Regions from separate parts of the Homo sapiens genome. Here region 1 is reported to be linked to region 2. Evidence: microRNA targets listed by miRTarBase, many of them from high-throughput screens and not tested one by one. Region 2 holds a microRNA gene; the other region holds the end of a gene's coding sequence.

Evidence for each region. Region 2 holds the annotated microRNA hsa-miR-6511a-3p (CCUCACCAUCCCUUCUGCCUGC, at 2,880-2,901, opposite strand). A microRNA usually pairs through its seed, bases 2 to 8, with sites in the 3' UTR of a target mRNA and lowers its output. Matches are read on the target gene's strand: a 7mer-m8 pairs with bases 2 to 8, a 7mer-A1 pairs with bases 2 to 7 and ends in A, and an 8mer does both.
Region 1: the mRNA of MED18 is a reported target of hsa-miR-6511a-3p. Seed matches in the 3' UTR shown: 8mer at 2,918-2,925 and 7mer-A1 at 2,528-2,534.

Annotation. Positions count from the first base shown.
Region 1 is chr1:28,334,332-28,338,331 of GRCh38, reverse strand. MED18 (mediator complex subunit 18) reads right to left here. Exons shown (of 3, transcript NM_017638.3): 3 at 2,367-3,915. The coding sequence ends at 3,362. Among named protein-coding and RNA genes, the nearest start is that of MED18, 7.3 kb to the right of the region's middle.
Region 2 is chr16:18,341,136-18,345,283 of GRCh38, forward strand. MIR6511A4 (microRNA 6511a-4) reads right to left here and starts at 2,944; the gene lies at 2,878-2,944. It also overlaps the pseudogene PKD1P4-NPIPA8 and the pseudogene PKD1P4. RefSeq lists an enhancer at 873-1,664.

The sequences.
Region 1 (4,000 bases), not on the chromosome of region 2:
CTAAAAATACAAAAATTAGCTGGGCATGGTGGTGGCCGCCTGTAATCCCAGCTACTCGGGAGGCTGAGGCAGGAGAATCGCTTGAACCCGGGAGGCAGAGGTTGCAGTGAGCTGCGATTGCATCATTGCACTCCAGCCTGGCAACAAGAGCAAAACTCCCTCTCAAAAAAAAAAAAAAAAAATCAAAATTAGCTGGGCGTGGTAGCACATGCCTGTAATCCTAGCTATCCAGGAGGCTGAGGTAGGGGCATCGCTTGAACCCGGGAGAAGGAGGTTGCAGTGAGCCGAGATGGCACCACTGCACTCCACCCTGGGTGACAGAGCAAGACTCTGTCTCAAAAAATAAATGAATTAATAAATAATAAAAATAAAGTACCTGTCATGGAGCAAACACTATTTAAACACTAATACTTTTATTAGTATGAAAGCATATGCAAGTTGGAAGTTATGAGTTAGATTTACATAGAGTAACAAGTACATATCAGGCCAGGCACAGTGGCTCATGTCTGTAATCCCAGCATTTTGGGAGGCTGAGGCAGGCAGATCACTTGAGTTCAGAAGTTCGAGACCAGCCTGGCCAACATGGTGAAACCCCCTCTCTACTAAAAATACAAAAATTAGCTGGAAATCACCTGAACCCAGGAGGCGGAGGTTGCAGTGAGCTGAGATCATGCCATTGCACTCCAGCCTGGGCGACAGAGCAAGACTCTGTCTCAAAAAAATAAATAAATAAAAGCTCTATTGTTACACAGCTTATAAAAGCAAAAAAAATGGGATCAAACTGAAAATCATAGAGGATTCAATTAGATAACTTATAGCAAATCCATATGATGAAATAGAAATAGCAATTATAATTGTCAATATTTAAATACCAGCTCTGCCAATCAGTAGCTGTATAGCTCAGGGAAAGTTAATTAATCTATATGTACCAGTTCTCCTGTTTACAAAACGGGTTTAACATACCTGAAGCACTTAGGATAGCACTGACACATAACAGGAACTCAATAAACTAGCTTTAAAAAGAAAAAAATTTTGGCCGGGTGCGGTGGCTCATGCCTGTAATCCCAGTACTTTGGTGAGGCTGAGGTAGGGAGTTCGAGACTAGCCTGACCAACATGGTGAAACACCGTTTCCTTCTTCTTTTTTTTTTTTTTTGAGACGGAGTCTTGCTCTGTCGCCCAGGCTGTACTGCAGTGACGCGATCTCAGCTCGCTGTAAGCTCCGCCTCCCGGGTTCAAGCAATTCTCCTGCCTCAGCCTCCCGAGTAGCTGGGACTATAGGCGGCCGCCACCACGCCCGGCTAATTTTTGTATTTTTAGTGGAGACGGGGTTTCACCGTGTTAGCCAGGATGGTCTTGATCTCCTGACCTCATGATCTGCCCACCTCGGCCTCCCAAAATGCTGGGATTACAGGCGTGAGCAACGCGCCCTGCCCGAAACACCGTTTCTTAAAAACACAATGCCACTGCACTCCAGCGTGGACAACAGTGAGACCCTTTCTCGAAAATAAAAAATATAATACAAAAAATTAAGGCCGGGCGCGGTGGCTGACGCCTGTAATCCCAGCACTTTGGGAGGCCGAGCGGGGCGGATCACGAGGTCAGGAGATTGAGACCATCCTGGCTAACACTGTGAAACCCCGTCTCTACTAAAAATACAAAAAATTAGCCGGGCGTGGTGGCGGGCGCCTGTGGTCCCAGCTACTCGGGAGGCTGAGGCAGAAGAATGGCGTGAACCCGGGTGGCGGAGCTTGCAGTGAGCCGTGAGTGCGCCACTGTACTCCATCTCAAAAAAAAAAAAAATTAGCCGGGCATGGTGGCCCATGCCTGTAATCCCAGCTACTTGGGAAGCTGAGGCAGGAGAATCACTTGGACCTGGGAGGTGGAGGTTGCAGTGAGCTGAGATCATCGCAGTACTGCACTCCAGCCTGGGCAACAAGAGCGAAACTCTGTCTCAAAAAAAAAAAAAAATTTTTTTTAACAAAAGGGGAGTGTAGACAAATGTCCTGGAAAGATGTTAATGATAGATGAATGGGAAAAAAGGGTTATAAACCAGTATATATGGAATCTTTTTATAAAATAAACACATTTCATATACATAAATTTATAAAAAAATAAAGACTAGATGGATATATACCAAAATAGAACTAGTACTTCTCTTTGGATAATAGGTGTTATTTTCTATCTGTACTATATTTTAAAAGTTTTCAACAATAAATATGCTACTTTTATGAAAGGTGAAAACTCTCATCCTCATCTCTGCCACAATTAAAACTAGGAACTGTCATTTTTTTTGCTTCAACTGGTAATGAATCTACCCCAAATTTACAGGGTAAGGGAATAAAGAATCAGAATTACACAGACATGTCTCTTCATTGGCTTTATTACCATGTAACACAAGCTCACAGCCTCTAATGTTACCAACCTTATACACAAATGGCCAAACAAGAAATTGTCCTTTCCAAAAGATAATTTATTCTGGTTTCCCCTCTTCATTTTTATTTTTTTTTGAGACGGAGTTTCGCTCTTCTCACCCAGGCTGGAGTGCAATGGCGTCATCTCTGGTCACTGCAACCTTCACCTCCTGGGTTCAAGCGATTCTCCAGCCTCAGCCTCCCAAGTAGCTGGGATTACAAGCGCCTGCTACCATGCCCGGCTAAATTTTGTATTTTTCGTAGAGATGGGGTTTCACCATTTGGCCAGGCTGGTCTCAAACTCCTGACCTTGGGTGATCCACCTACCTCAGCCTCCCAAAGTGCTGGGATTAGAGGTGTGAGCCACTGCGCTTGGCCCGGTTTCCCCTCTTAATACAGTGGGATTAGATAGATTCTCCGTGACATCCTGAGCCTTTAATATAGAAAGGCTGTCATGAAAGTGAAATCGCCACATGAGGAGAACAGTGCAAAGAACCAATTAATTCTCACCATCCTCTCCCTGAAGGAAGAATGCCTGCCTGGCAATGGTGAAATGGGACATTTAAAACATATTTTTTTGGCCAGGCGTGGTGGCTCATGCCTGTAATCCCAGCACTTTGGGAGGCCAAGGTGGGTGGATCACGAGGTCAGGAGTTCGAGAATAGCCTGACCAACATGGTGAATCCCCATTTCTACTAAAAATACAAAAATTAGCTGAGCATGGTGGCATGTGCCTGTAATCCCAGCTACTCAGGAGGCTGAGGTGGGAGAATTGCTTGAACCCAGGAGGCAGAGGTTGCAGTGAGCCGAGATCGTGCCACTGCACTCCAGCCTGGGAAACAAAGCGAGACTCTGTCTCAAAAACAAAACAAAACAAAAACCAAAAAAAGCAAACATATTTTTTCAAACAAGTAAGGATAGGCCCCAAATGTGGACAGATCCTCTTAGTCACATGAGCCTCTTGGGGTCTATTTTCTCTAGGTGAACCAGAGGTTTTAGCTGTTCTGCGAAGTTCTTCATGTCATCAGAGACCATGTCCTGCCCAGCGGGTGCTACCACACTTAATTCCACGAGATAGGAGAGTGACAAGGCCTCAGTGCTGTCTGTGTTCCCTGGCACCAGGATGCGGAAAATCTTGTACACCATAATCTTCATGATGCCCTTACGGAACAAATGTCCCTTAGCAACAAACTCATGGTCCATGCGGAAGCCCATTTCCATCAAGAAGTCGGTGAGGTTCTCAGATGTGGCAATGTCCACGCAGTTTCGCACCAGGGCATGGCGGTTCTTGTCTCCCATTTCTGGCTGTCCCAGGTAGCGCAGATGCCAGGGTGCCCCTGCCCTGTCCATAGAGCGTCGGGCCCTGAGAACAAATGGGCTGGCTTGCTGGCCCTTAAGGAGGAATACCATCTCATGGTCAAGGAAAGTCTCAGGTTCCATGTTGTCACACAAACCACGAAGGCGGTGGATGAGGCTTTCCAAACTGTGATCTAAAACACTTCCTGAAAACGGAAAAAGCACCACTGAGTCCTGTCTTTCATTTTAGGTCATGGAGTTAGTATACAATTGAAAAAACTTAAATGAAAA
Region 2 (4,148 bases):
AGAAGAAGAGGAGCAGGGTGAAAGGGAGGGGAAGGGGATAAGGGGGATAAGGGAGGGGAAGGGGGATAAGGGAGGGGAAGGAGGATAAGGGGGATAAGAAAGATGAGGGGAATGGACAAAAGGACGGGGAGGATCGGGGGGGAAATGGAGAAAAGGGGAGAGAGATGGAGAAAAGGGATGGTAATAGGGAAGGGGGAGGGGGAGGAGAATGGGAATTGGGGGAGGGGGATAAGGATGGGAATTGGGGGAGGGGGATGAGGATGGGAATTGGGGGAGCGGGATGAGGATGGGAATTGGGGGAGCGGGATGAGGATGGGAATTGGGGGAGGGGGATGAGGATGGGAATTGGGGGGAGGGGAGGGGGACGAAGATGGGATGGGGCAAAGGCGAGGCGGTTGTGGGGAGGAGGGAGGCAGAGGAAAGGGCGGCATGGGGCGGACGGGCCACGTGGGGCGGGCGGGTGGCGTGGGGCACGGGCCGCGGCACCTGTGATGTTGAGGATGCTGTCTCCGATGGCGGTGGGCGTCACGGTGCCCGCGGTGGTCTCTGCCTGCAGGATGCGCATCATGGCCTCCAGCTTGTGCAGCGTCTGCTTCAGGCACGAGCGGCATACGAGCTCCCTGCTGGGCCCCTGTGTGGAGCCAGCAGTGTCCAGCCCCGCTCCTGGCCCCACTCCTTGCACACGCCCTCCTCTCTACACGGGTCCTCACCTGGCTCCCACCCCCAGCCCTGCAGCTGGAGAGCCCACTTGACTGGACCCCCACAGCCTCCTCACTAAGCATTTTTTGTGGCTCTGCATGACCCAGGGCCTCCACCTGGGGAACACGTGATGCAGCCCACCGACCACACAAGGCACCTCTTCACATGAGAGAAGGAGGAGGGCAGAAGGGAGAGAGGAGAGGGAAGTGGAGAAAAGGGGGGAGAGGAGAGGGAAGGAGAGAGAAGGGGGAGAGGAGAGGGGAGGGGAGAGAAGGGGGGAGAGGAGGGAGGGGGAGGAGGGGAGGAAGGAGGAGGGGAGGGGTGAGGGGATGGAGGGGCTGGGGGAGGAGTGGAGGGGCTCAGCGGGATGAGGTGAGGGGAAGGTCTAGGGGAGGGGAGGAGGGGAAGGGCTAGGGGAGGGGAGGGGCTGGGGGAGGAGGCAGGGGCTAGGGGAGGGGGGAGGGACTAGGGGAGGGAAGGGGGAGGGGAGGGGTTAGGGGAGGGAAGGGGAGGGGAGGGGCTAGGGGAGGGAAGGGGGAGGGGAGGGGAGAGTGGAGGGCACAGAGCAGCATCTTCTTAGTCCCTCCCCACATCTGGGCCCCTCTTTACACCCTGGGTCCCCCGAGAGGCACCCTGCGTTCACACAGGACAGCAGAATGGCTGAGGCTACTGAAGCAGGTCAGAGACCGAGGAACGCCATGGCAGGAAGGAGCCCAGGCTGGAGGCTCAGCTCCTCGGCCAAGCTGCCCGTCTGCCCTGGGGGGCTGAACCCAGTACCCTGGCAGGCATGCGGGGCGGGGAGAGCATGTGGGGCCATCCTACCATGCACTGGGCCAGCGCAGCAGCGATCTGCTGGATGTCATCCACAGTGTGGACCCTCAGGGACACCAGAGTCTCCGTGATGTTCTTGCGTATCTGGGCTCGGCGCTGCCGCTCGTGCTTGGGCTCTGCCGCCACGTCCAGGGCCCGCTCGTACTGGGGCAGGCAGGGGGCACAGCAAGCTGTCAGCAGGGCAGGAGGCCGGCAGGAGGCCAGCAGATGCCCACGACTCCCGGGGTGCAGTTACGTGCTAGATGCTGTGTGATGTGGGCACTGACCCGCAACACTGAGCTGTTTCTTCATGGGCAAAACAGGGTAAGCACATGGGCCCTCCTGGGCGGGGGCTGCATTGTGGAAAGCAGACGCCGGAGAGGGCCCGGTGGGTGTGGCTGCTGGGAGCGGAACGTCGGGGTGCTGCTTCAGGGTCACTGGGATTTATCTCTGGGGCCCGGGATGAGCCCTCCGCAAAGCTCCAGGCAGGGGAACAGGTCTTGGTCCCCAGCACGCATGCAGCAGATGTGAGGTCCCCTCCCAGGCTGCACTCACCTCGTTCAGCACAGTGACCAGGGCCAGCGAGTACTCGATGACGTGCTGGGGATCGGCCTGCCGCAGCAGCCCCGGGAGCACACTAGCGGTGAGCCCGTGCAGCCAGACTGTGAGCCCCATTGCGCTGCCGTTGGGCTCTGGGAGGGTGATGGCCAGAGACCTACGAGCAGAGGGGGGTGGTGAGTAGGTGGCAGTCTCGGGGGCGCCCTCCCACGGCCTGGCTCACCTGTTGAGGGCGACCACAGCGGCTCCCAGCTGGTCCTGCACCACCACGGCCAGGCCCACCTCGAAGTGTGGCCTGAAACCCGGGGGCAGCACGGCTCCGTAGCCGGAGAGGCTGCCCTTGTAGACACAGAACTCCTCGCAGTGGCCCTGGCGACAGCGCTGCAGCAGCAGGGCGTACACCAGCGGGGCGCCAGCATCCTCCGCGTCATGCCAGCCTGAGGGACGGTCCCCACGGCATCACGGGAGGGCTCCGTGACCTCACAGAGTCGGGGGATCCCGCTGCTCCCCCTACGCAGGCCTGCACTCACCCATGCATTCGAAGTGCACCTTGGTGGTGAGAGCGTGCACAGCGCCCAGTGGGAAGAGGCGGCAAGAGCCCCCCAGCGGCGGGCGGTTGGGGGACAGGGGGATGGAGGCGCAGCCCTCCTCCTTGCCAGAGCGGCCCAGCACCGTCAGCGTGAAGGTGTATCCCTCGCCGTCCCGCAGCACGCCCCGCCGCAGCACCAGTCACATGCCTGCGCTGCCCGTGGATGTGGTGGTCTCATCCAGCACCAGCGTCTTGTTGCTGAACGTACGTGCAGCCCACCGCTGCAGGCAGAAGGGATGGTGAGGGGGCGCAACCCTCTGCCCTGTCAGCCCCACTTCTGCCTGCAGGCCCCGTCCCCTCGGCCATGGGACCCATCCCCAACCCGCCCACACCCCGCTCAACACTCACCCCTCGCTTGGAGCCGCTGCTGCAATTGAGGCAGCGGCCCTCCAGGTACACGTAGGAGCTGCGGCTCACTTCGTACACGGCCTGTGCCTTGCAGGACACACACTCCAAGGACACAATGGGCACCCGGCCACTGCGGATCAGCACCTGGCGTGGGAGTGGGGTTACCTCCAACACAGGTCTATTTGGCCTGCTGGAAGGTCTGGGGGACCCGTGGAGGATGCTGCTCCCAAACTCCAGGTTTCCCAGGGGCCTGGCCACTGCCGGTGAGCTCACCCCCTCCCAGGATACTCATCCGGTTTGCCACCTTCCAACCTGGGCGGCGGAAGGGCATACACAGGGCAGAGGACACTGGGGTGTGCGTTCTGGTGTACTGGAGCCAGCTGGACCCTGGCAGGAGGCAGGCAATGCTCACTGAGGGCCCCTGGGGGGATGCGTGTGGGAACAGACGTATGTGTGGGTGTGAGGACCGCAGTTGCCACGTAGGCCTGACTCACAGACTCCTGCAGCCCTTAGCCAGGGCCTGGGTCAGGAGGCTGAGCCGGGATGGAACCTGCTCCCACACCCTCCCCTCAGACGACCCCTCTGGGCAGACCCCCAATCAGGCCAGCTGAGGAAAGCAGGGACTGGGGAACAGACACCCACTCTGGGGTACCAGCAGGCCCCAGTCAGGGAGGCGCACACGCTCACAGAGGGCAGGGAGGCGCACACGCTCACAGGCACCTGCTGCGTCCGGTTCTCGAAGGCATTAGATGCCAGCAAGGTCAGGACGTACTCACCTGTGGGGACAGGCCCAAGTGGGGCAGCCGCGGCACCCCCACCTGCTCCCCACCCGCTCGGCAGAAGCCCCCCGCCTGAGGAGCCCGGGGTGAACGGCTGCACCTGCGGCCCAGCCTTAAGGGTCCCAGGCTCCCAAGCCACGTGCGGGACGGAGCACAGGTGCAGCAGCACTGAGGGCTGCCTGGTGAGGACGGCACCGCCTCCAAGTGCAGCTGCACTCGGGGCAGCAGAGCAGCAAGAGCCAGGCCGCGGTGGGGGGCAGTTCAGGGGGCCCAGCTTCCCTGTCCACTCCTCCCACGCCTGGCCCCTCCCTCACCCCAGTAGGGGCCTAAGCCATCAGCCCAGGTGAGGTCACAGTGAGGGCTGT